7 linked regions of the Homo sapiens genome follow. The protein of the gene in region 2 purifies or fractionates together with the protein of the main gene of each other region. This does not show direct contact. Each region holds a gene or a part of one and is shown on either strand. Other genes may lie near its edges. The genes, in order: ARHGEF6, NCK2, CYFIP2, ASAP1, CYFIP1, ABI1 and ARHGEF7.

Region 1 (3,500 bases), on a different chromosome or scaffold from region 2:
CAGCAATCAACTAAAGTATTCCGTAATCACAAAAATGTTTCCTATAGATGCAGTTTGCACATTTATTGCAAGCCATTGACTAACCACAGAATGGGCAGATGTGAAGATCTGTGTTGATGTTGTTGGTGGTGGTGGTAGTACTGATGTTTTTAATTTTTAAGTGAAGGATGTTATATCTAAATGGCTGTGCTAAAAAACAGAACAACAGCCATTCCTAGAAATTTCTTTACTCTTCAGCTTCCAAACACGGCTGTGTGTGGTTGGCTGATGTTGGACTGCAAAAATAGTCCATTTCCTGTGGATGGTGTAATTTCTGCTGTGCAGCAAGCAGACAACAGCCCTGTACCATGTAGCTATGGGACCTTGAGACTCTCAGTACCAAAAATAAAAAGGGCTCCTCAGCAAGCTGGGGGTTTCAAACTTCAAGTTTTGTTTTTTCAGAGACAGAGGTGTCTCTCTGTTACCTAGGTTGGAGTGCAGTGGTGTCATCACAGCTCACTGCAGCCTTGACCTCCTGGGCTCAAATGATCCTCCCACCTCAGCCTCCTGAGTAGCTGGGACCACAGGTGTGGGCCACCATGCCTGGCTTCAAGTTTGGTTTTTAAACAATATTTGCAAAACCCACATTTATAGGCATCCATCAAATATATTATAAAGGCAATTCTGATCAGCCCTTTGGCCTCAATTTCCAGTGACCTTCCCCATCTGGCCAAATTTCTCTTGTCTTTTGGGGAGGGAGGGGTGAGTGGCACTGAGCCTTAGGCCAACTTTCAATGGCGCTGAATTTGGATGTGTGCTGTTCTGTGACTGTCTTCTAAACCTGGTTTCTCACAGTTCTAGTTTCTGGGATAAAGTGGATGATGTGATTCAATGAGCAACTTGAGTTAATCAGTCCTGAATAATCCAGCACACAGCTACTAGAGGGGCCCTTTTGTTCTGGATGTACAAGTTGGACCAGAAGCATATTTCTGCAAATACTGCTTAGAGTCCCACCCAAAGAGGCCAATTAATATTACAACTTCTCACAGCATATATGAGAGAGTAATAAAGTGAATGAAAGCTGTCTAGTAGGGCACAATATCTTCTTAATGCAGATTGTTTTGAAGGATAAAACATCACAGTTTGAATATGCAACGTACATAAAGTAACTCCTCACAGTCTAACTACATTTTTTTAAAAAGTAAGCAAAGCACATACATACTAGTTTACACACCACTTGGTAAGGTTGGCTAAAAGTACTGGGGAAATAGAAAACTTACACACTAGGCAGAATGAGGGAAAGAAACCTATCATGCAATGGGAAAAGGCGGTCAACTCTGCTACTAAAAGGGAGGATTGTCCAGTAGAATTTGCTGATGGATTTGGTGTTGGTGTGGGTGACCAGAGCTTCTGCCCCCCTGAGTTACAATTTACATGACACAAAAGGAATAAGGGTACTACAGTTTTCTTGGTCTTATAGACAACATAGGGCAGTAATTTTAAAACCTGTGATTGAGGGGAGGCATGTGATGGTCTAAGGAAGGGCAGCTGGATCATTGGGCAGATGTGTTTGTCTTTCATCCTACTCAAGCCATAGTCTGGAAGATTTGCCTTCGGTAAATTAAGTACTAAGAGGCTTGCAGGTACAGGAAAGCCCTGGGGAAAAGTTGGGTTCACATTTAATAAGCCTTGGCCAGCTGCTTTGCAAGGGCAGCCAGCCCAAAGAATGTGACCTGAGGGCAATGGCTGTTGCAGAGGCACTGTGAACTGAAGGCAATCTGAAGACCTTTTAAGTAACTGGCCTGCATTCCCTTTCTCTTTCTTACTGAATGGAAAAGACTCTGAGGCCATCTCTACCACCACTTCCTGCTTTTTCACCTGTTGAAAAAAAAAATGAACAACCAACCAATAACCAAACAACAGCAAATGCCCAAGCGCGCACGTGCACGCACACACATATGCACACAGCGGGGAGAGAAAGAGAAGAGAGAGGGAGAGAGAGAGAGAGACTCAAACACAAAACAAAAGCCAAAGAAGTGAGCAAACTGAGTCAAATCATTCAGCGGGACATTTCAAGATGCCCTGAAGGCACACTCCACCCAGTGGCACAGTGATGGTTATGGAAGAATTGAGGTCTTGCTACTGGACTCGCCTCGAATACACTCATCTGTTTGCTTCAAAAGCCTCCGCACCAGCTTTTCTAGGTCCCTTCTTGATTTCAGTTCTTCTTCCAGGCATTGCTTCATTCTTTTATTTTCCTATGATGGGGAAAGATTTGTTGATTATCAAACAGAGGGGGGCCCTTCCAAGGGCTCCTCCTGCTCATCCTCGGGGCAGCTTTCATCACTGACTCTCTTTCTTTCCTCGACCTTCCCTCCCTCAGCATCTATGACAAAGCAGCCTGTCGATTCTCCTGCCTGTCTCTGGGAAACCTTTTGGATTCTTCTTCCCTGCCCTGATCCTCTTCTAATTTAACTTGCTTTTCACTTAGTGTCACTTCTGTTTCAACCCAAGTGTCTATTAAGGGGACTCCCAAATATCTCTGGTACTGACCTTGTCTCCTGAGAATCGGGTCCACAATCTCAACTGTCAGCCTGGTATTTCTTCTTCTTCTTCTTCTTCTTATTATTATTATTATTATTATTATTTTATTTAAGAGATGGGGTCTCACTCTATTGCCAGGCTGGAGTGCAGTGTAATCATGGCTCACTGCAGCCTCAAACTCCCGGGCTTAAGTGATCCTCTCACTTACCTGAGATTACCTGGCAGCAGCTTGGTATTTCCACCTAGATATGTCACAAGCACCTTAAACTCATCAGGTCCTAAAGTGAACTCAGTATCTCTCTCAACACCCCAAACTTCTCCTCCTCCTGTGATTACTGATCTCCATGAAGGGGCACCACCATATGCAACCAGACACCCTGGGAAGAAGCTTCATCTTTAATCCCTGGCTCTTTCTTAATCTCAAAATCATATTATCCTCGTCCATAGGTTCAAACTCTGCAGTATGCCATCCTTTACATTCGTTTCCTCCTCCCCAGCCTCATTACCCTGCCTCAGTTCAGGACTCTGACAGGTTTCACCCTGAGTTTTGTAAGAACCTCCTAAGTGGTCTTCTAGTCCCTGGTCTCTCTCCCCTCGCATCCATCCTTCACTCTGTCACCAGATACAGTCAGTCCTCACACACAAGGCACAGTGTGCATCACGGAGCACTAGGCCACATCGGCAGAAAAGCCCACAAACCATGATGAATGGTTCTCTTTACACTTACACACTCATGAATGACTAGTCTTTTCTTAAAGTCTGTTTATGGATGTCAGAGAACAGGAAAGTTGTAACTAACTTTGGGACTCTATTGTGAACTACTACATAGAAATACAAGCAAGCCTCGGAAATTTAAATTCAAGGCTTACATGATAAAATCAACAAAACCTACCTTGATGACACAAGGAAAACAAAAATCCCCCCTCGCTACCTTGCTCCTAGGCCTTCCCTGAAAGCATGAGCAGCGTGAGGCAAGA
Region 2 (3,500 bases):
CGCGATAAGTGGGTACTTTTAGAAAAGAACAGTAGAGAGCACACTCTTTGATCCCATCTCTATGGCTTTGCCAGCTTGATCCATTGCCTCAAATACTTGCTGAAAAGCACCTTTGCAGTTTTATAAAACAGATGTCCTGATCAGATACGCCTCTCCCTCTCTCAAGATTTAATCATTGTTTTCTCATAGAAGGAAAAAAATGAATGCCGAGGACAGACTTTAATATCCTTTATTTCCTCCTCCATTCCTGAAAGCTTATGTATTAATGCGATTTTCTTCTAAGCACAATAGTCATGAGGAAACGGGAGGGAGGGGCCTTGCTCCAGGTACTTTTGGTTCTTTAAACCTTAAAACTTCTCCTTATCTTTCACTTTGGACTTTATGAAATGATGAGGGTAGAAATGCCCTTTGTGTGATTCACCAGGCCTTCCACACAGACCCTGGACTGATCTCCAGCCACGCTGAAGTCTCCAAGCATCAATAATCTACACATCTCCTTCTACCCCCAGAGAGAGGTCACCCTGTTGGTTTCTTATCACAAGTTGTATCATTCTTTTCTTTTGGTAAAGACATGTTTTTCCCCTTTTACTTCTTTACAGAAGGCACTCTTCTGTCCACAGAAGTGGTTCATTTACCTCCCAAAAGTGAGAACAAATGGGTTAGAGGCAAATCGTGATCCACTGATTAATAGTTTCTCTGTTTTTATCTCAGAAAAACTGCCTTTCAGTTTTACCATTCTATTTGGTCACCTGCCCTAGTTGTCTAAGGTAGCCTTCTTTTAATAAAAATTACTCCTGCCTATACTTATGCTGCTAGCTGTCAGTTGACCCTATGTTCTTTGTTTTTACATCAGATTATCTCTTCCTTGCCCCAAGTGTGAAGAGTCTCACCAGCTTTTCCTATTCTCCTATCAATGTTCACTCTATAAAATATTTACTCCACAGGCCTGAAGCCAATCCACACTGACATGTTCAAATATTCATCTCATTAACTTTGGAAGTAATCTTATTTACATAAATGAAAAGTCAATCATCAACTACAGAGCAGCTGTCCAAGTCCCATCTACCTAATCTAGGCAAACGGAGCGTTCCCTGTCCACTTTCCAGTTAGTATGCATGTGTGTGGTTAGCCCTCCCTATCCCCAAATGTATTTCCTAAAGTCACATGTAATACCTCACCATATAGACCTGTAGAATATTGTCCTTGTTATTCTTTGTCTTTCCATAGTGTCATACCTGATGTGACTGAGTGATACATTTAAGTCAGAATTTTACCATATTACACAACAGTATGCAAAAGGGCTTGAATCAAGTGCATACTCCACAACGTAGTGGTTCTCAAATTGGCGCATCAGAATTATTCAGGAGTTCATAGGTTCTCAGGATTTGGAACAAAAAAAGGACTCAGAGGGCTTCTTCAAACCAAGGTTGCAGAGCCCTACCCCAGAGATTCGAAGTCAGCAAGCTGGGGCAATCTGCATTCTAGCAAGTTTGCTGGTGATGCTGGATGTTGTCTGTTTTAAAGGTCAGCATTGAAGAGCCAGCCAGAGTGAGAAGGCAGAGTCTTCAAGGGCTCTGGCCCATTTGAGAATCAGAATCAGGTGATGAGCACTAAACTTCCAGATAACAGCCTGTACTGCATGATCTTGCAGGCCTTTCCATCTTCAAGAGTTAAATATGCTTAAAATTAGAACTATTACAAAAATCCAGGCTTAAAACTTCCATTTGGTACTGGGCAAAAAGCCTGGCAATTAAAAATAACTTGTTATCTTTGAAACTGGAAAGATGCCTACAGGCACTGCTCACAGCAACCTAAGGTTAAGTCATCTTAACATTAACTCATTTATGAAGAAACACCATGGATCACGGAGCCTAACCATGAAACCCTGGAAGCAGCTTTCACATTGCTCTGACAATCTACCTCCTCCTAATTCATCAGCAGAAACACAGCAAATACAGCACGTTTATTTTCAAACTCTAAACAGTAAAAAACAAACAAACAAAAACACAAAAAAGCCCCCCAAAAAACTCAACAGAAATATACTTCAAGAGATAAATCCCACTCAACAAAAGCTTCAGTTCTAAATGAAGTTCAGCTTTATGACAATATTTTTATAATTCATGGAAATGTAGTATTATGCAGAAATGGTTTTAATAACAGCTGCAAGAATATATAAAACCACTAAGAATGCATCATAGGGATCAAGGGTTTTCAAAGTGTGGTCCCAAAAGCAGCAGCATCACCACCAAGAAACGTGCTATTAATAGAAATGCAAATTCTTGGGCCCCAGACCTCCTGAATCAGTACCATTTCAGGTAGGACCCAGCAATTTGTTTTAACAAGCTTCAAGGCAATTCTGATACACACTACATACAGTTAGAGAATCATTATTTAGAGAAATGGAATGATGAAATTGCCTGAAAATAGAGTTTTGGGTAAAAGTTATAATTTCTTTAAGAAATATTATAACTTTAAAAATACAGAAAGGAGCTATTCTATTTTATTTCCCAGCCAAATACTTTTCATATATTTTAAAAAAGAGAAATGAAACAAATATGTGCATTAAATTATCCTTAGCGAGACAGTTTTTCTCTACTGGAAAAAAAAGTACTGTATGACAAAAAATATTAGTATCTAATACTATTGCAGGACATAATAAATACATGATATCTTCGGGAACTAAAATCTTACAGAGGAAAATGGCCTCCCGCACTTGCAGGCCAGCTCTGCACCTTTTCCAACCATATCCTAGTTGTGATCTGTCATTTTCTGAACAAGCTTTACAAGGATGGGAGATGCAGCAATTAAGAAAATAAAATATTGACAACTTGTACAGTTTACCAGAAACCCAGTAAAGGGTTACTGTTCATTTTAAGTACAGCTTTCTAGCCACATCCATAGAATCAATGTGGACAAAATGTAATATAAAAGGATTTATAATGGACACACACAGGGTGAGTAGGATTTCTGAGTTTTCTGGATTTAAGCAGGTATGGCTCACAGGTGAAGGTATGATAACGAAATATGGAGAATAAGCAACAACAATGCATCACCTTTAGCTGCTAAGGATAAATGACAATTGTAGATGAGAGAGGAGAGCGAGGGAGGAGGAAGAAATGGAAGGACAAGCAGTAGGTACTGAAGTTCAGGACAGGAAAGAGGGTCCAAGAGGTTCGTTCGTTTGTTGGTTCACTGATTCATCTAACATATCCAACAGATACTTCTGAAATACCCAGCACTTACTGATAGTGGATAGTGTAGCATGTGGCAATGTTTGTCTTCCCTGAAATACGCACCCCTCAATATCGTCAAGCAAGGGTCTAGCTCATTTACACTGCAATCACTCAGGATATTTTATTGAAGATCCATTCCAAAAAAAACAGCTGTGCTTATCCAGAAGCCAGGCCTCATGTGATAACCTCAATTAAAGGCCCAGGCCCAAAGACTGCAAGAAAAAAAGGAAATTAAATAAAGATGCCTGACTGAGTCCTGCAGGGAGG
Region 3 (3,500 bases), on a different chromosome or scaffold from region 2:
CATGCCTATAATACCAGCACTTTGGGAGGCTGAGGCAGGCAGATCACTTGAGGTCAGGAGTTTGAGCCCAGCCTGGCCAACATGGCGAAACCCCGTCTCTACTAAAAATACCAAAAAATAATAATAATAATAAATTAAAAAAATAAATAATTAGCCGGGCACAGTGGTGCATGTCTGTAATCCCAGCTACTCGGGAGGCTGAAGCAGAAGGATTCTTTGAACCTGGGTGGCAGAGGTTGCGGTGAGCTGAGATCACACGACTGCACTCCAGCCTGAACCTGGGAAGCGGAGGTTGCGGTGAGCTGAGATAGTGCCACTGCACTCCAACCTGGGCAACAGAGCAAGACTCCGTCTCAAAAAAAAAAAAAAAAGTGTGTTCATTATACAAACACAGTGTCAAGACAGGCCCCCGAGTGCCCACTTTCAACTGGATTGTGGCTCCTTGACTCCTCGCGTGTGATAATTGCCAGATCCCATACAGTTTAGAGACCTTGAAGGCCCTTCCCGGGCTACTCTCTAATGGAGAAGTTTGTACTGTTTGTTACAATCACTCTTGTCAATGCCAGCAGACATATGAAGACTCATGTTCCTGAGATACTACTCTTCCTCTGCTCTGGACATACATCTTACTAAAAGGAGAGGAAGTGTGAAGAACACAGGACTGGGATGCAGCTCGAGAGCCTCCCCTGCTGGCAGCAGCAAGTACTAATTAGCGCTTGGTTGCGGCTGAGTAGCAAAAGTCTAGCATCCGTGTGTCTGTATGTACGTATTCTTGTTTTTGATCCCGCTCTACTAAGGACTTTATGACAAATTAGCCACAAGTATCTCCTGGACAAATTTAGCTAAGTCAGAACAGCTGAGTTGAACCTGGCCTTTCCTAGCTCCAAAAGCCCACTGGAAAGTGTATGTGTTTTTTCCTTGGTGGTGATATGTGCCCCTTAGGGTCAACGGTCACGTCCCTTTGCAATGCCTGGCTTGGTGGTCTTAGCGGCTCTGAGAGCCCTCATCCCCTCCTCCCATGCCTTAGCAGGGATGGGATGCAGCTCACCACTGATGTTGAGCAGATGTGTGAAGAAGAAGGACTGTTTGTGAAAGTCCTCTATGGCGAGGACAATGGGTCCATCCAGGCTGCTCCTCAGGGTCTTCTTGGAGCCGCTTTTGTCTGCAATGAGTGATTCAAGCATGGTCCGCACCATGTACAGCTTGAAAAAGAAAGCAAGATGAGAAGGTCAGAAGCTGGCCCTCTACCCCGGGGAAAAAGGTTGCTTCATGTTGTATTTATGTATTTTTTTTTTTCTGCAGATGTCTGCTCTTAAAAAGCACTGTCCTAAGGAAGCACCAGTTTAAGGTTTGAGAAATAAATGTGGAACTGTGAAAACCTTCATGGCCAACCCGGGCCCCGTGGCATCCCTGGGCCAGTGGACCTGGCCACACCAGGTAGCTCCCTGCTCTGCTTGGCCAAGGGCGTGTATATCAGAGGAGAACCTCATTACGTGTCACCCTGGAGTCACTCCCTGCTTTCCCAGAGGGCCACAGATGCCATGGGTGGAGCACTGGACTGGGAGTCAAAAGACCGGGGTTCAAGGCCAGGCACTGCTGCTGATTTGCTGTGTGACCTTAGGCAACAAAGCCCCCACTCTGGGCCTCAGTTGTCTCATGTAACATGAGGGGGTTGGACCAGATGCCTTCTCACACCAGTCCCTTTCAGCACTAACATTCTGAGGAACTGAGAAATGGGATAAGATCAGAACGAACCCCCTCCCACACCTGTTCCTGACCCTCAGCGTTTTGACCCCATGGCTGAGCGATGGCGCCCCCTTGGTGGCATCAGCTGCACTGCACAGCCTGCTGAAGTTCAGGGTGGAAGGCGGGTTAACATTGGTACTTACACAGGAGGCTACTAGACAATTAACTCCCGCTTACAGGGTGCCTTAAGTGCAAAGGATGCAAGTGCGGTGGGGTGGTTCTCTTTGCTAATCTAGATCTCTCCACATCATTTGTCTGTGAATCTTAGGGCTGGAAGGGGCCTTGAGGAGCCAGGCTAGTCCATTCCTGCTGCCTCCTCGAGAAGGGTACCCAAACCAACCCAGCCAGGCGGTGTGATACCAGGGATCGGCAGCCTCTTCGGCCCTGTGTGCCACCAGTGGGGTGAAACAAAGCCCTCGGGGACCACTGGCAGGCCTAAGACATAGATAGGAGAGAAGGAAGAGGGAATGGGAGGGCAGGAGAGACAGGGAAGAGGGAGAGAGAGAAAGAGAGAGAGAGAGAGAAAAGCAAGAGGTATTGTATACGGTGGGAAAGCCGCCGCGACTGCCGGGGGCCACCTCTGAGACACTCCAACCTCCCAGCAACCGCGTTCGTCTTCGCTGCCTCTGGAGCTTCCCTGGGATCTCCCCCATCACATGCCTGGCACTGATGCGGGTAGAGCAGCCACAGAAACGTGTGACCCACCATCCCTGCCACAGGGCTTCCTTTGTGGGAAAGCAGCCACAGTGGCCGTCAGTGCCTCAGACAGTCCCCCATCTGCAGCCCTGTTGGAGGGCCTGTCTCACCATCCCTAGGAGCCGAGAAGCACTCTTCTCATGACGGCCTCTCAAGTCCTCAAAGGAAGAATCCAAGTCTAATCTGTTGTGGGTGCTGTCCAGTTGATATCCAACTCTAATTCTCTGAAAACTGGTTTCACCCATAAGAAGGTGAACTTTTTTCCCACGTACTTTTACTTAACAGAGCATTTAATTCACCAAAACAGTCTCTATCCCAACTATGCAAGATGCCCATGTCTACTGTGTCCTGAAGACCGTACCAGAGCCCTGGGTGGGTGTCAGGAGACCTGGGTTCTTGTCCCACCTCCACCTGGGACTCACCTTGTGACTTGGACAAGTCACTTCCCCTCTCTAGACCTCAGTTTCCCCATCCGCAAGAGAGGGGGAGGGCCTAGGTTTCTCTAATAGCGCTCCCAGCTCTGGTTGTCTACGAGTCTATTCAACATGTCTGTGCCACCTAGCATGACCTGGTAGAGGTTGGGGGTGAGGCGGGATTTACTGCTGGTGACCCACCCCTCTCACATTATCTACACAAATACTCCTTCCTCTCCTCTCCTTTTCTCTCTGCCTGTTAAGTCCCCTCCTCCTCCTTTCCAGTGTCTTTTGTGCCTTGTCTGTCTCTTGCTCACTCATGTCTTAAAATTTACAGAAACACTTGAAAGCCCTGCTCAGTGTCTCCCGGACCTCAACCCTTGATATTACACAGAACTGTTTGCAGACGCTTCCTTGGGGCGTTCTACAACCAGCCGGTGAGATTGGTGCAAACTAGCAGAGGGCTGTGAAGCCAAGGGGAGTTAAGATGACCCTGCCGAGAACCCACCTCTCCCCTGCCCCAGCCCCCAGCACAGACACAGACGCACACACAGGGAGAAGGGTCGGGGGTGGGCCTCAGATGGTCCATCTTGGGTGACTGAGAACAGAGAGAGGCTTAAAGGTCATGGGAAGTGAGGCCTGTGA
Region 4 (4,071 bases), on a different chromosome or scaffold from region 2:
GTGATTTACAAGCCACATGTCTCCTGTGTGTGAATGAATGCCTCTGAGCCTCATTTGTCAGCTCTGTAAAGCTGAGGGGCTCACGCTTCTCCTGGGCTTGCTAAGGATTCAGGGGTTAATGCAGGCAGAGTGCCTGGGCCAGGTCTGCTCCACTGCGTGGCAGCACTAGTTGTGACAGCTACGTGACAGAAGTGCTGTCCACACGACAACATGTAAGCCTCGTGCCCCTCCACCCTCTTCTTGCCCTGTTCACATCAACGGGCGCACAAGTGGACGTGGTGGAGGTGGAATGCGGAAGGTGGAGGACAGAAAGGGGCCGAAGGCCCACAGTTTGTAAGCCGGGGCAAGTGCCACATATTTTTATGTATCCAGAGTGATCTCTGACAAGGGTTGGAGTGACCTGTGTCATCTATATACCCGAAAGCACAGCCAGAGGAAGCCTTGATTCTCTCCTGTCAGCAGGGTAGTGAACAACTCACAAAATGGCCTGATTTCAGAAGTTTGGGATCAACTGAGAATATGTTTATTTAAAAGCAATTTTAAATATTAAAAAAAGTAGAAATTAACACATACAGTACTGAAAAACTGTCACATTAAACACATGTGAAATGACAAGTGTACTGATGTTTGATGGTAACATCCAGATGAGAATTCGGCATTTAACTAGTGGCACTACAGGATTCCTATACAACATGTTGAAGTTCTAGGCAATAAAAAAATAAATAGCAATTGCTGTTCAACAGTAAAATAAGACACACACTATTTGCAGAACATAACTTTCCCCTCTGGGGGAAAAAGAACTAATTTGCTATTTTTTTTTCATAAGGTTCCATATCTTCAAAATACTATATAATGTACAAAATTGCAGATAGTGGCTTACTGAGTTTAAGATCAAGATCAGACTTAAACTCAACAAGATCACCAAAGGTATTTCTACTGAGTTTTCCTATGTCCCACAGTAAGCTGGGTTAGAGAGAACTCAAATTCCTGATGGAAAACAAAACCGAACAAAAAAACTAGAAAAAAAAGGTGTTAAAAATGCTGTGTAAGTTGCTGCAAAAGGGGAAAAAGAATAGACACTAACTCCATGTAATTTTAGACATGCAGCTTTTGTGTTTTTTTTTTGTTTTTGTTTTTTTTTTTTTTTTGAAAAAAACCAGTTTATTTTGAGATCAGTGAAAAGAGTCTAGGCCACAGAAAAGAACAGCTCTTTAATGCAAGTTAAAATGTGTAAATGAATGACCGGGACACTGAGCAACCTCAGATGCAGACTTCCATCCGGACACTGGTGTGGCTTCAGTACCGAGGCTGCTAAAGCTGCCAGTCACAACCCAGCATGTCAACTGGTTCCTCATGCTCTGTTTGGTGTGGAAATTCACATGTGCCCTGACACTGAGGAAGCAATTGCTTAAAATCACTTTCCAATAACAGCTGATAAAATATTTTGCAGGTTTGTCATGCAAGGTTTATTTATTAGGTGGCTATTCAAAGTTTGTATAGCAACCACTTAAGCAGAACTAAATTAATATTCACTGAGCACTGTAACGATGGAAGAGGGCTTTTCCTAAGGGTTGGGTTGGGAGTTGTGCTTCTGTGAAATTAACATCTCTCACTCATTGCCAAGATTCTCTGCTTAAAAATATTAGTTTTCTGTGCTGTTGCCAAAATAGCAATTTAAGCAAATGTAGTGCCAGAATGACACATGAGCCTCGGACTCAGGGAACAGTTCCACTGACTGTGGAGTACAACTATTGCATTCTTTTCCAAAATTCAGACTGATGTAAAAGACTGAAATACAATGTTCTTAAGGATCTGATAAACATGGCTGGGATGAAAAGAAAACTGAGAGGGAAGAGTGCTTTTCACAGTGCAATTCATAGCAGCGTTCAAAAACTTGGTTATGAATTGACTTGAAGGTGGACAGAGCTTAAGACTGGAAAAATTATCTATAATTGGGGTTTAACAAAGAGCATGGGAAAAGAAACACTTGGTTTCAGCACCTGGATTCTACATACAGTAGGGAAACTGTGTGAAGGGTTGACTTTTAAATTCATCTTGAATAATCTTTTAAAAGTTTAAATTTGTCCAAGAACAAAACTAAGAAAATAATAAAAAATGGATGCAATGGATGCTTCAACACATCTGAGAGATGTGCATTCATAACACAATATGTCAATCCATACTCTTGAGAAAGCCAGTGATTAGAAACAAATATTGTTGCAACCTTATAATTTCTGCTTTAATGGCAATCAAGTTTAAAAAATGTACAATTCCACTTATCCATACTATTCCTTTATAAAAGGCAGATTTCAGGTAAGCTTCTAAATGCATGCGTAATGTAGAGGCTAATATTTTCTGGCAGTCCTTGGTTCCTGAAATTTGAACTTCATATGTGTTTTAAACTTTTGTCAAAATAGTCATGAAAGATATGTTATTTTTGCATAATGAGGTAATATATCAGGGGCGGGCACTCATAAGACAGTATAAATCCACTTGTCTAAACTTGCATGAGGCTGTGTGCATTGTAAAATGCCATAAAGAGTTTTGGGTCAGTGAATATTTTGCTGAAGGAATAACACTTACATTTAACTGAGCACTTTTCTGTAATAAATACCAAAGTAGGTTTTTGTAGCTGTAAACTGTGTACACAGATAACTACAGGCTGGTCTGTCATGGAGCTAAAAGTTTCACCTGGAAAACAGAACCCACCTCTTTGCTAATGTTGCATTTTCAGTAACACAATTGAGAATACTGCATTGTTAGGAACAGAGTCAATTCTATGCCTTTCAACGGTTGCTGGAGACCACTTCTATTTGCAAAGCCAGCAGTTCCTATACTCCTATTTTTGTTTGTTTGCTTGTAGAACAGCATAGAGAGATGTAAGTGCTAGATGCCAAGGATGGCTTTGGCAAACCAGTAAGGCGCGCCGGGTCCGAGGCTACCCTCATACTGGTGAAGGCAGAAAACCACAGGATATTTACAACACACATTATATCCCCCTCCTGAGGTGGCCCTTCCATGAGTTTCTTACTCTGTAACAGCAGCTATATACACACTGTGCCCAGGGTTACATGAAGGCAGCAGTCTTGCATGAAGGATGTGGACAATCTTAAGGTTCTGCGTTTTGCTAGTCAGACAGGATATGAACAAAGGACACTGGAAAGACCCCCTTCCTTTCAGGCTGTCCTTCGATGTGGCCAATCTGCAGGGAGAAAAGAGAGTGGTCAGGATGGAGGCAGCAGGCAGTGGCCCCACGACAAACCCAGTGGGTAAGAGCCCAGCCTAGTCTGCCCACAGACCTGGCGGTGGAATCCCAGGCTTACCCTTCTTCCCACCCTTTAGTGAACTACAGAGAGCTTAACGGTCATAAACTACATAAGGAAAGAGCAAACGACAGAACTTCCAATATGCTCAGCATTCTACATGGATCTTGCTGTACCCACACAGCAACCCCCTGAGGTGGATATTTCTTATACAGTTTACAATCTTCATTTTACAGATGAAGGGACAGTGGCCCAGAGAGGTGACATGCTCTCCCACAGGCGTGGGGCTCTAGAGTCCTTGCTCTGAACCAGGGCGCCTGGCTGCCTTTACAGCTGGGTGACCTCACACAAACCTTGCTAAGCCTTTTCTCTGTTAAGTGGGGCTAAAGAAAATCCCTTCTCTCCAGGCTTGTGTGATACATTTAAAAAAGAAAAAAAAAAAAAAAAGCAAATGAAAAGGCTGCTATGGCACCTGGCCAATCCCAGTACTATTACCTATTCCTAGTTGGGAAGGAAGGGGTTTCTTTGCCCACAGCCCAGGTAGGATGCATACAGACCATTAAGCTGTGTCAGCTGCCTGGCAAGACCCACTGCGGGGTACCATACTCAAATCAAAGCTAATCTTGTTCTGTCTCTTCTCTTTGTGAGTAAAGTGTTGTTCTAGCCAGTAAAAAAAAAAAAAAAAGGCTGCTATGTACTATCACTTGTTTTCTGGTTACCGTGGAGGAAGAATACTGTGAAAGTTTGAGACTGATGGTGGCGAATGGCAATTTTATTGTCTGCTGCATTGGCCTGTAAGCCAGTTACC
Region 5 (3,500 bases), on a different chromosome or scaffold from region 2:
TGGGTCATTGAAGGGCTCATGCCCCGTCTCCCAGTCACACACGGTCTTCCTGATGGCCTGCAGGACACTGAACACCCCACCAAGTGATCAGCAAGGCCCAGAGGCCGAGACCTCCAGCCTCACAATCACACCATCTCCTCACCCAACTACAAGGCTCTCAGAACAGCCCCCATGAAAATACAAATTACTCTGGGGGCCATGGAGGGATGTGGTAATGGACCAGCTCAACAGGAAAGTTAAAAAGGAGTCTGCCTTCTGGAGAGTATTACTACCCCCAGAAGACTGCCCTGAGCTCCAGTTCGCATCTGTTAGCCCAGGGCAGCAGTGAGGTGGCTCTGAGTCATGCTGTGGGCAGGGAGAGGGCAGAACACAGCCTCCGCACGGAGCAGAGCTGGGCCCCGCCTGCCCGCAGCTGGCTGTCCCCAGTAACCAACAGGAATGTGAAGTCACCCACATGACCAGAGCCTGGCCATGTCTCTCGACTGGTTTGGAACACAGCCTCATCACCAACAGGGCTCCACCGTGCAGAGACCCCCATAAGGCACCATGCATGAACCACAGGCACCGCGAGCCTGGGATAAATGCACCTTGTCCCGGGGTCCTCAGACTCCCTAGACACTCGGCAGCTGACTTACTGTCCATTGTTTGGGTTAATAATTGGACCCATGCATTACTTTTAGAGGTAATTCACCAAGAGGGCATCTGAAGGTTGAAGATAAATATATTGAAATCATTTTTGAGAATTTAACGCTCCTGTTGTTTGAATCCAAGTTCATCCGAGGACGTGTGGGCACAGCGGGCACAGGGCGTGGGGAAGGCTGACCTCTGGATGACGTTCTTCTTCTTCTTGATGGCCTGCCGCAGCGGCTCCCTAAGGGTCACCTGGGAGAAGTCCTGCAGTGCGGCATAGACGGTGTGCCGGATGGCGTGGTTGAACACGCTCTCCATCCTGCCCATCAGCACCTGCAGGCCTTTGATCATGGCGATCACCTGCGGGGGACACAGCAACAGGGACGGCCCTTCTTAGGGATGGCACCAAGCCTCCTCTGCCTGGCACATGCCGGGGGCTGCTCCTCCTCGCCCACAGCACCTTACGCCCTCCCGCGTTCGTGCCCTGCAGCTGCCCTGCCCCAAAACGTCTTCTCCAAAGCCATAGTCAATGGAACTGTGCCCGCATCTGACTCCCCATCAGACCATGAGCACCTGGAGGACAGGGATGCATCTGACTCGAAACACACATGCATCCACCCCAGCACACCCTCCTGTGATGGAATTCAAATAGGAAAGAAGAAAAAGACTCAGGAAAGCAGGCATGATATTACTAGAAAAAGAAGTTACAAGAGGTTGTAGTCCAAATCCCATATTGTTCACAACAAAGGCGCAGTGAACTACCATTCACAGAAAAAGCCTGGAAGACTCTGATGGAACATAATTACATGACAAAGAGCTTCCAAAGGAATTCCTGGGACAGAAAAATGGTGCCAGGGCTCATTATTTCCCTGTTTCCAGACAGTAATTTTGTCATGACAGTGTGCTTTATTACTTTCTGAATAAACAATTGAAGGTCACAAACCAAGTATGACCTTTACAATTGCATGAGCTTTCTTACGGCTTTTGCCGTTTATAAATATTTCTACAGCCAACTTCATGATAGCTATGTGAGGCCTAGAAATCTCTCTGAAAGCAGCAAGTGAGGCAGAGCAAGACACACTTACCCCAAGTCCACCCTGCCGTGTGGATGTCTGACATATAAGACACCAAAGTGGAACATTTAATAGCACCAGTGAAACATAATTCACTTCTTTTTATCTTTTAACTAGAACGCTGTACCTAAGACTAATACATTTGGGAAAATCTTAACAACCCTTCTTTGGCCAGGCACAGTGGCTCACACCCATAATCCTGGCACTTTGGGAGGCTGAGGCGGGAGAATCACTTGAGACCAGAGTTCAAGATCAGCCCGAACAAAATGGCCAGACCCCATCTCTACAAAAAATTTAAAAATTAGCCAGGTGTGGTGGCATGAGCCTATAGTCCCAGCTACTCGGGAGGCTAAGCCAGGAGGATCACTTGAGCCTAGGAGTTCGAGGCTGCAGTGAGCCATGACTATGCCACTGCTCTCCAGCCTGGGTGACAGAGCGAGACCCTGTCTCAAAACAAAACAAAACAAAAACCCTACTTCAACATCTGAAAATGGTCTTCAGTCCACAGTAATAAAAAAAAACAAAAAACAAACAAACAAAAAAAACCTTTTGAAATTAAGTATTTGACAGATTCAAAATTAAGGCAGCTTTTTTTTTTTTTTTTTTTTTTTGAGACAGGGTCTCACTCTGTTGCCCAGACTGGAGTGCAGTGGCATGATCATAGCTCACTGCAGCCTTGAACTCCCAGGGTCAATCGATCCTCCTGCCTCAGCCTCCTGGGTAACTAGTTCTATAAGCATGCACTACCATGCTTGGCTAGGCATCTTCCTACTTTTATTAAATCTGTTGGTTTGAAGTTCACTTAGCAAGAACACAAATGTGTTTCCCCAAGGCTTCACACAGTCTCCCTCTATCACTTTCTGGTTTTATTCACACCTTTTGAGTTCCTCATTATGGCTTTATAAACAGCCTGATTCATGGGTAAATGAAGACGTGTCTGACAAGTACTTGAAACATGGCTTATATGATTTTGGTGCTTTTCTTTTTCATGAAATTTTCAGGTGGAAAAGTTGACAGTCTGCTTTTAATTCATCCTTCTATAACGTAAAGAATTTCCAAATAGACTGCTTTCATGTAAGACTCATGGTCTATATGCAATTAAAATAATGAAAATTTTAGAAAGGAAAAAGTCTGGAAGAAAACGCACCCAGCTGCTCAGCGCCATCTCTGTGATGGCGCCGCAGGCACTGTGCCTTCCTAATGCCATGCTTGTGTTTTCAGCATGCTTACTTTGGAAAACTGATGATTTTATATTGTTTTTCCAATCAACAAAAAAGAAAAGTTCTATTTAAAAAACCAAACGAGGAAAAACCCATTTAAGTGAACATAACAATCCTACATATTCACACTTACAGGAAGAAGGAAAAGGCAAGTTAACAGCAAACTGAGAGCTTTAGATGCACGCATTAGAAAACTAAAAAGGATAAAAATCATAATACTTATCAAACATTCATCACTAATTTATAGAAAACAGCAAAATAAACCCCCCCAAAATCGAAGAAAAATAACTAAAAGCACCCGGGCGCAGTGGCTCATGCCTGTAATCCCAGTATTTTGGGAGGCCGAGGCAGGCGGATCACAAGGTCAGGAGTTCGAGACCAGCCTGGCCAATATGGTGAAACCCCGTCTCTACTAAAAATACAAAAATTAGCCTGGTGTGGTGGTGCACACCTGTAGTCCCAGCTACTTGGGAGGCTAAGGCAGGAGAACTGCTTGAAACTGGGAGGTGGAGGTTGCAGTGAGCTGAGATGGCGTCACTACACTCCAGCCTAGGTGACACAGCGAGACTCTGTCTCA
Region 6 (3,500 bases), on a different chromosome or scaffold from region 2:
TTTTTTCTTCTTTCACACCAAGTCTGTGAACCCAGCATATCAGTTCTTATGAAAGTCCATATCACATATATCAGTTCTTGCTAATACTCTCAAGGTGAGAATACTGCATATTTTTAGGACTATATAATATTTGCAAATTTGTATTAAAACTAATGTCTTCTCTTTTTTCTTTTGTGGCTTTAATACTAATAACAGCTTTATATGTAGTACTTCTGACTAGTCCTGGTCTGTTTAGAACCTCAATTTTAGCATGCTTCTGTCTTTTGGAGAGTTTTCTTAGAAAATTATTGAAATAATCTCTTAGGATACTTGCAAATTTTTCTTGTGTGCTTCTGCGTTCTCCAGTTGATTCTGATAGCTCAGGAATGCTAATAGTCCTTGTGGAAAGGAGATATTTAGGCAACTGGGGATCTGCTGTGTGACCATTTACAGTAACCTTATTTATATTCAGTGAAATTATGTCCTAAGAATTAAGACAGTTAACAGTCAAAAATATGTTAGCCAGAAAGGAAGAGTGTTCATATTGGGACAAGAGGTTGGATCAAACTCTAGGATATTGTGCAGATATAAATCTATAAAACCCATGAAAATAGTGTTGGCATGAAAAGTAAGGTAAAGGCTGGGCGTGGTGGCTCACACCTGTAATCCCAGCACTTTGGGAGGATGAGGCGGGCGGATCATGAGGTCAGAAGATCGAGACCATCCTGGCTAACATGGTGAAACCCCGTCTCTACTAAAAATACAGAAACAAAGTTAGCTGGGTGTGGTGGCGGGCATCTGTAGTCCCAGCTACCTGGGAGGCTGAGGCGGCTGAATGGCGTGAACCCGGAGGCGGAGCTTGCAGTGAGCTGAGATTGTGCCACTGAACTCCAGCCTGGCAGCCTGGGTGACAGAGCGAGACTCCGTCTCAAAAAAAAAAAAAAAAAAAAGTAAGGTAAAATTGATAGTTAATGCTAATTTTGAAGCATTTACAAAGTTTTGATTGGGAGGTTGTATATTTTTCCTAATATCATCTTGTGTTGATTGTAATATTTATTGAAATTATGGTTTGATTGTAGAAGAAATAATAGTCAAACCCCAGAACTACAAACTTTGTAGATCTTAATATTTACTAAGACATCATGTTAGAAAAAAGGGATTTTTTTTAAAAAAAAAAAAGGGCATTGTTGAGAAATAAGACAATAGGAAAGTAGCAATTACTGGATTTTTTTTTTTTTTTTTTTTGAGATGGAGTCTCGCTCTGTCACCCAGGCCGGAGTGCAGTGGTGTGATCTCGGCTCACTGCAAGCTCCGCCTCCCGGGTTCACGCCATCGATTTTGTTTTTAAAGGAAATAGTTGACGTGGTCATTTTAACAGTAAATATCCATCCCTTAGAATGGAGACTTGAGATTTGACTACTGTGTGTCAATCCAAATAAGTACTTTTAACTTTGGATCTACTAATTTTCTCCATCTACAAAATAAAACTTTCTCAGACATAGTTGGTAGTGAACCCGTGTTTATGAAGAAAATCTGTTAATGAGGGACCACACCCAGCTAATTTTTTGTAATTTTTGTAGAGATGGGATTTTGCCGTGTTGCCCAGGTTTGTCCTGAACTCCTGGACTCAAGTGATCCTCCTGCCTTGGCCTCCCGAAGTGTTGGGATTACAGGCGTGAGCCACCATGCCCGACCAGCAAAAACACATTTTTGAAAAACTTCAATTTACCTTTAATTCACTCATTTCCTGAATGCTTTATCATTAATTTTTATTAATAATTTCTACATTCTTTGACAAAATTGTATTTGGTACATTTTATTTTTCCTTCTATGGAAAGGCAAGTGTGGCACTTTTTCAGAACCCATGGGAAATTAATGCCCTCCACTTAAACATCAGAAATGTATATATTATATCATATAGAAAAAGATGTTTCCTACTACGTCAAATATTAGCAACTTAAGAGTTGTAACAACAGATGCTTATTTTATTTTATTTTTTTGAGACAGAGTTTCGTTCTTGTTGCCCAGGCTAGAGTATAATGGCACAATCTCTGCTCACCTCAACTTCTGCCTCCTGGGTTCAATCAATTCTCCTGCCTCGGCATCCTGAGTAGCTGGGATTACAGGGATGCGCCACCACGCCTGGCTAATTTTGTATTTTTAGTAGAGACAGGGTTTCTCCATGTTGGTCAGGCTGGTCTCGAACTCCCAACCTCAGGTGATCCACCCATCTCGGCCTCCCAAAATGTTGGGATTACAGGCGTGAGCCACCGTGCTCGGCCCAGATTCTTATTTTAATAAGGCAATATAGAGAAAAGAGTACATGGGTGCCATTTTATTTTTAATTTTTATGAGGGTTGGGGTCTCCTATGTTCCCCAGCTGTCCTCGTAATTCTGGGGTCAAGCGATCCTCCCATCTCAGCCTCCTGAGTAGCTGGGTCTACAGACTTTCCCCCCAAGCCCCTCCCACCATGCTCAGCTCATGGGTGTCATTTTAAAATTGATTATTACTCAAAAGTGCGCCCTCAACATAGTTAGGCAATCCCACTAGATAACCTCGCCAGTTTGTTCTTCCACTTACCACAAACTATTTTAATTTTTTTCTCCCTTTTTGAAATCTGACCCTTTCCTTTCTTGTCTTTTGGTTCATAGAGAAAATAGACTTCATCATATAAGACCTATAATTTCTTACCACTGCATCTCCAAACCTGCTATCCTCGCTCACCCTATTCTACTCCTTTTTATAATGGAAGAGAGACATTCTTCCTCCTAGCTAAAGTCCTAACTGTGGGTCATATCCTGTCCTGCCTTTTTGTAAACCTTATGCTCCTGATAAGTTTATACCTCCTCTCTTTACTGAATTTGTGCTTTCACAATTGAAACATTTCAGATCTCTGTCGTACTTGAAAACTCTTTTGACTTCATATACTCATCTAGTAACTGACCTATCTCTCCTTTATGGATTAACTAGTTTTATTACACTATTGTCAGCTAGCTGCAGTGGCTCAAGTCTGTAATCCCAGTTACTTGGGAGGTTGAGGTGGGAGGATTGCTTGAGCCCAGGAGTTTGAGATCAGCTTGGGTAACAAAGCAAGACCCTGTCTCAAAAAAAAAAAAAAAAAAAAAAAAAATTAGCTTAGTCTGTAGTCCCAGCTACTTGGCAGACTGAGGTGGGAGGATCACTTGAGCCCAGGAGTTTGAGGCTGCAGTGAGCTATGGTTGCGCCACTGCACTCCAGCCTGGGCAACAGTGAAACCCTGTCTTTTAAAATAAAAACAAAAAACCAAGCATTTTCCTCCATCTCCCACTTTTCATTCACTCTTTAACCTGTTCTATTTCCACTGCTCTCTGAATGCTAATAACCTCCATGTTGCAAAATTCTTTCCCATTTTAGTTCTCATGTGCTTTTTTTCTCTGCATCATTTTGCATGGTTGGTTTTTCCTACTTTTTTTGAGAAGTTAATCCTTTGGCTTCTCTGATAGACCTTTCTTTCATGCTTTTCCTATTACTCTCTGGCCCA
Region 7 (3,500 bases), on a different chromosome or scaffold from region 2:
AGTAGCTCACAAATTATAAGATAGAGCTTCTATTAGACATTTTTCATCGCTTGAGATGCCTTTAAAATCTTCTGCTATGAGCTCCTAAGAGTGGGACAGAAACCCTGGTGCGTGCATGTGGGCAGCAGTACCTCACTTCCGGCACACTGAATCAGGACCTGGGACATGTAAGTGACGTTGCCCAGAGTTTTAATGTCATCGCCCTCCCAGTTCCGGATGGCTTCCGTCAGGATCTGCAGCTCAAGCTCTTTCCTCTTCCGGACTTCTTGACATTGGGCCTGACAGACACAGAACAACACTGTTAACAGACATAAACTTTCAGAATGTTAAGTTCCGGCCACATTGCTTTGTATCATCCTTAAGACAATTATTGCTTTATATCTTACTTCTTCAGACAGATAATTTATTGAGCGATTTGCTTAATTATAGGGAATTGAAAGTATTTGCTTAGAAGTATGAAACCAAGTTAAGAGAAGCAACACACACAACTGCTCTGGAATACTAAGTATTATTTTAGAAAGATAGAGCACATTTTGCCACTTGTACAAAAAAGAAATGTGGACAGGACAAGAACTGTATTTTCATTCTGGTTTTGTTCGTGTTTGCCAATATGGAAGACTGAAAAGAAGAAACAGAAAGTATAACTTGTGCTATAAAATAAGGCCATATATTTCCAAAACGCAGTTGGTAAGACAACACAACAGCAGAGAAAATGGAACCACCATTGTTCTGTTTTGCAATAAATCATTAAAGACAACATGAATGAAGGGTAAAAAAATGTTTTAAACAATTTTAAAGTAGATCTAACATCAATTACACAGTGACTTTAAAAAATTTAAATAATTATTCTATCATAGTCCACTAAAAGGAGTTTACCAGCCACAGAATGCCGACTCTGTTTTTCTTTCATGTCAGCACAAGTCATTTTTTAATCATTTGACTTTTTCAGTTGATAATTCTTTTACATTCATTTGTCACAATAATGTCTGGGGGGGAAAACAATATGCTTAATCACTTACTGAAAGGTTTTTGAAGGCAGCCATGGATTTTTGAATATCTTGTCTATCTGTATGATAATCCTTTGAGTAAAAGAAACATACAATTAGCTTTCATAAGGAAAAGCTTTTCTTAAAAAGGTACTTTCTACAGACCAGCTTGAAACTTTTCTAACACTTTTCAACCCTTAACATTCCCTTTTTCCCTCAGCATTAAAGTGTCAGTCTTTCAGCAAATCACGAAGCCATTAGACTTTGGGGAAATATAAGTTGGAAGAGAACAGTCACAAGCAGCAGGGGTGGGGAAGCCAACACTTGCTTCATCAATAAAGTCTTATTGGAACACTGCCACGGCTCACATACAGTATCTAAAATGGCAGAGCTGTGTAGCCGTGAAGAAGACCCTACAGTCTGCCCCCTTATAGAAAAGGTTTGCCAACTCAAGCCAAGAGAGTAACTTCAACCCAAATTTCTGCTAGGCTGCAACCTGTTATTCAAAATTAAAAGAGCACAATCATTCATCAAATGATTAGTACAGTATTACCCTATAACCTATGCACACATTGTTTGTAGCTGGATGATCCAGGTAAGACATCTCAACACTATCTGAAAATCAGTTCTCATGTTTCAGCTTTTGGAAACTTTTCAATCAGCAGCAGTGGGTAAAAGAGAGATAAGGGGTAAATGTTTTCTAATAGAGCTGGAATAAGGAGAAAAACATAATATTTAACAAAACTCTTTGTAAACTCTGTTGGTTCTGGCTTCTAAAATAAATCATGAATAATACTTTCTTTCACAGTAAGTCTGACCATGCCACTAACCCTTGGTAAGGACTCCAAGTAAGAGAATGAAAGCGCAGTACCTCCATGTGTCTCTCGAGCTCTTTGAGCAGCGTAGGGTATTTATCCAGGCGCATGAAGGGTTTGCTCAGGCCCGTGGTCAGCACGAGAATCCCAGGGCTGCTGGCACCTTTGGTCTCCATGAACTCCCCCAACTCCTCACTGGGCAGCAAGTGGCAAGAGAGACACTCGTGGTTAGCAATGAGAGACAATGGTGGCTCTCTCATCTCCATGAGCAACAGCCAGAATTTATGAAACATAAGTGTTGCTTTTAACATCTGGAAGGCTCCAGCTTTTATCCCAAATCTGCGCTGCTTATCTGGAAATGCCAAAGGGGACTCCCATCCCTAAGGGGTCCCGTTCCTGCTCTCATATGAGCAACAATAACTATACACAGCACAGGACATGTGGGTCTCCATGAGATCCTACTGATGGCGAGGTCCTCCAGCACATCAGTGCCATGCAGACATATCCAATGGAAACATGCACACTCAGAGCCAGAATGGATTCCAATAATCTCAGAGTCTCAAGGTGGTAGAACAAGGACCGAGCTGCTCCGGTAAAGAGCTAGAGCACACTGATGGTAGTCATCCCCAGATGCGAGTTCGTCCAGCGAGCAGGCCCCACCTATGTGCTGCCAGCACTCAGCCTGGGAGTAGGCAATGGCTCTTGGGGTGAGGAGCACGAGAAGCAGCAAGAGAAGAGAGCAAACGCTGATTTAGGCTTCAGAACTTCAAAAGCTTTAAGTTTAATCCTCACAATACGTGAGGAAGAAAGGGGTCCCTGTGTGCAGACAGCGAATGTTGATTTACGCTTTAGAACTTCAAAAGCATTGTTACATTCAATCCTCACAACACGTAAGGAAGGAAGGTGTCCCTGTGTATGGACATAGAAACAGTGCATATCCCAAAATTAAAGAGTCAGAAACAAGTTTTAGAACTTTCTGTATTCCTCTTCAACCATCCCCTTCACAGTGCCTCGCCTATCTTTCCCTACAGTGGGTCCTCATGTGTGTCATCTTTGTCCTCAGAGTTCCCATGGCTGTGGCAGAGGACACGGGCAGGCTTCTGTGGGGGGTCCAGCTCTTCACCCACACGTTTGTTAAGGCTGACAGTCACCTGACCGCAACACCCCTTCACTGGCGATCTCTGAGGTCTCTGTCAGGCCCTGGGTCTGCTGTCCCTCAAATTGCATGTGCCATCAGTCCACACATCTGACAGTGTACAGCCCACAGAAAGGAGGGGAGGCAGCACCAGCGCTGGCAGCCGATGCCAGGTCCAGACCAGGATGACTTCTCAGTCACCACATCCCATCCAGGAGACCCAGGTGACCCCCGCCCCATCACCACGCCCCATCCTAGAAGATAGGGGTCTCTAGTCAGCAGAGCTTGGTTCAAATGATACCCATGGCACAAATCCTAGGAACAAATTTTCCTAGTCTAGAGGTTTTCCCTTAAAAGGAAAAGATACTTTTATATCCTCATTATGTAAACGATGTCCTAAAATAAACATGAAAATCCTAACAGCAAAACTGAGAAACAAGCCAATTTCCGGTTCTGGTCTCACAGGAGCCTCCCACCGCACCACCCCAGCCAAGCTGGCTACTGCCAGAGGTCTCGGGGACACCAGAACCATCAAGGGCTCCCGGGGAAAAGACAGACAGTGTT

Evidence for each region.
Region 1: the proteins of NCK2 (region 2) and ARHGEF6 purify together in Homo sapiens (affinity purification with mass spectrometry; 4 studies listed by BioGRID and IntAct, with this or other methods). This does not show direct contact.
Region 3: the proteins of NCK2 (region 2) and CYFIP2 purify together in Homo sapiens (affinity purification with mass spectrometry; 4 studies listed by BioGRID and IntAct, with this or other methods). This does not show direct contact.
Region 4: the proteins of NCK2 (region 2) and ASAP1 purify together in Homo sapiens (affinity purification with mass spectrometry; 4 studies listed by BioGRID and IntAct, with this or other methods). This does not show direct contact.
Region 5: the proteins of NCK2 (region 2) and CYFIP1 purify together in Homo sapiens (affinity purification with mass spectrometry; 4 studies listed by BioGRID and IntAct, with this or other methods). This does not show direct contact.
Region 6: the proteins of NCK2 (region 2) and ABI1 purify together in Homo sapiens (affinity purification with mass spectrometry; 5 studies listed by BioGRID and IntAct, with this or other methods). This does not show direct contact.
Region 7: the proteins of NCK2 (region 2) and ARHGEF7 purify together in Homo sapiens (affinity purification with mass spectrometry; 5 studies listed by BioGRID and IntAct, with this or other methods). This does not show direct contact.

What each region holds. Positions count from the first base shown.
Region 1 is NC_000023.11:136,665,933-136,669,432, forward strand, and holds part of ARHGEF6 (rho guanine nucleotide exchange factor 6), read right to left. Parts: intron 2,238-3,500; coding exon 2,097-2,237; 3' UTR 1-2,096. UniProt on the Homo sapiens protein: Acts as a RAC1 guanine nucleotide exchange factor (GEF).
Region 2 is NC_000002.12:105,884,412-105,887,911, reverse strand, and holds part of NCK2 (cytoplasmic protein NCK2), read right to left. Parts: intron 1-3,500. UniProt on the Homo sapiens protein: Adapter protein which associates with tyrosine-phosphorylated growth factor receptors or their cellular substrates. Maintains low levels of EIF2S1 phosphorylation by promoting its dephosphorylation by PP1.
Region 3 is NC_000005.10:157,321,623-157,325,122, reverse strand, and holds part of CYFIP2 (cytoplasmic FMR1-interacting protein 2), read right to left. Parts: intron 2,182-3,500; coding exon of another isoform or gene 2,107-2,181; intron 1,203-2,106; coding exon 1,049-1,202; intron 1-1,048. UniProt on the Homo sapiens protein: Involved in T-cell adhesion and p53/TP53-dependent induction of apoptosis. Does not bind RNA. As component of the WAVE1 complex, required for BDNF-NTRK2 endocytic trafficking and signaling from early endosomes.
Region 4 is NC_000008.11:130,051,604-130,055,674, forward strand, and holds the end of ASAP1 (arf-GAP with SH3 domain, ANK repeat and PH domain-containing protein 1), read right to left. Parts: intron 3,203-4,071; coding exon 3,128-3,202; 3' UTR 501-3,127; downstream 1-500. UniProt on the Homo sapiens protein: Possesses phosphatidylinositol 4,5-bisphosphate-dependent GTPase-activating protein activity for ARF1 (ADP ribosylation factor 1) and ARF5 and a lesser activity towards ARF6.
Region 5 is NC_000015.10:22,917,869-22,921,368, forward strand, and holds part of CYFIP1 (cytoplasmic FMR1-interacting protein 1), read right to left. Parts: intron 991-3,500; coding exon 824-990; intron 68-823; coding exon 1-67. UniProt on the Homo sapiens protein: Component of the CYFIP1-EIF4E-FMR1 complex which binds to the mRNA cap and mediates translational repression. In the CYFIP1-EIF4E-FMR1 complex this subunit is an adapter between EIF4E and FMR1.
Region 6 is NC_000010.11:26,850,959-26,854,458, reverse strand, and holds part of ABI1 (abl interactor 1), read left to right. Parts: intron 1-3,500. UniProt on the Homo sapiens protein: May act in negative regulation of cell growth and transformation by interacting with nonreceptor tyrosine kinases ABL1 and/or ABL2. May play a role in regulation of EGF-induced Erk pathway activation. Involved in cytoskeletal reorganization and EGFR signaling.
Region 7 is NC_000013.11:111,272,310-111,275,809, reverse strand, and holds part of ARHGEF7 (rho guanine nucleotide exchange factor 7), read right to left. Parts: intron 1,997-3,500; coding exon 1,858-1,996; intron 1,080-1,857; coding exon 1,020-1,079; intron 279-1,019; coding exon 132-278; intron 1-131. UniProt on the Homo sapiens protein: Acts as a RAC1 guanine nucleotide exchange factor (GEF) and can induce membrane ruffling. Functions in cell migration, attachment and cell spreading. Promotes targeting of RAC1 to focal adhesions. May function as a positive regulator of apoptosis.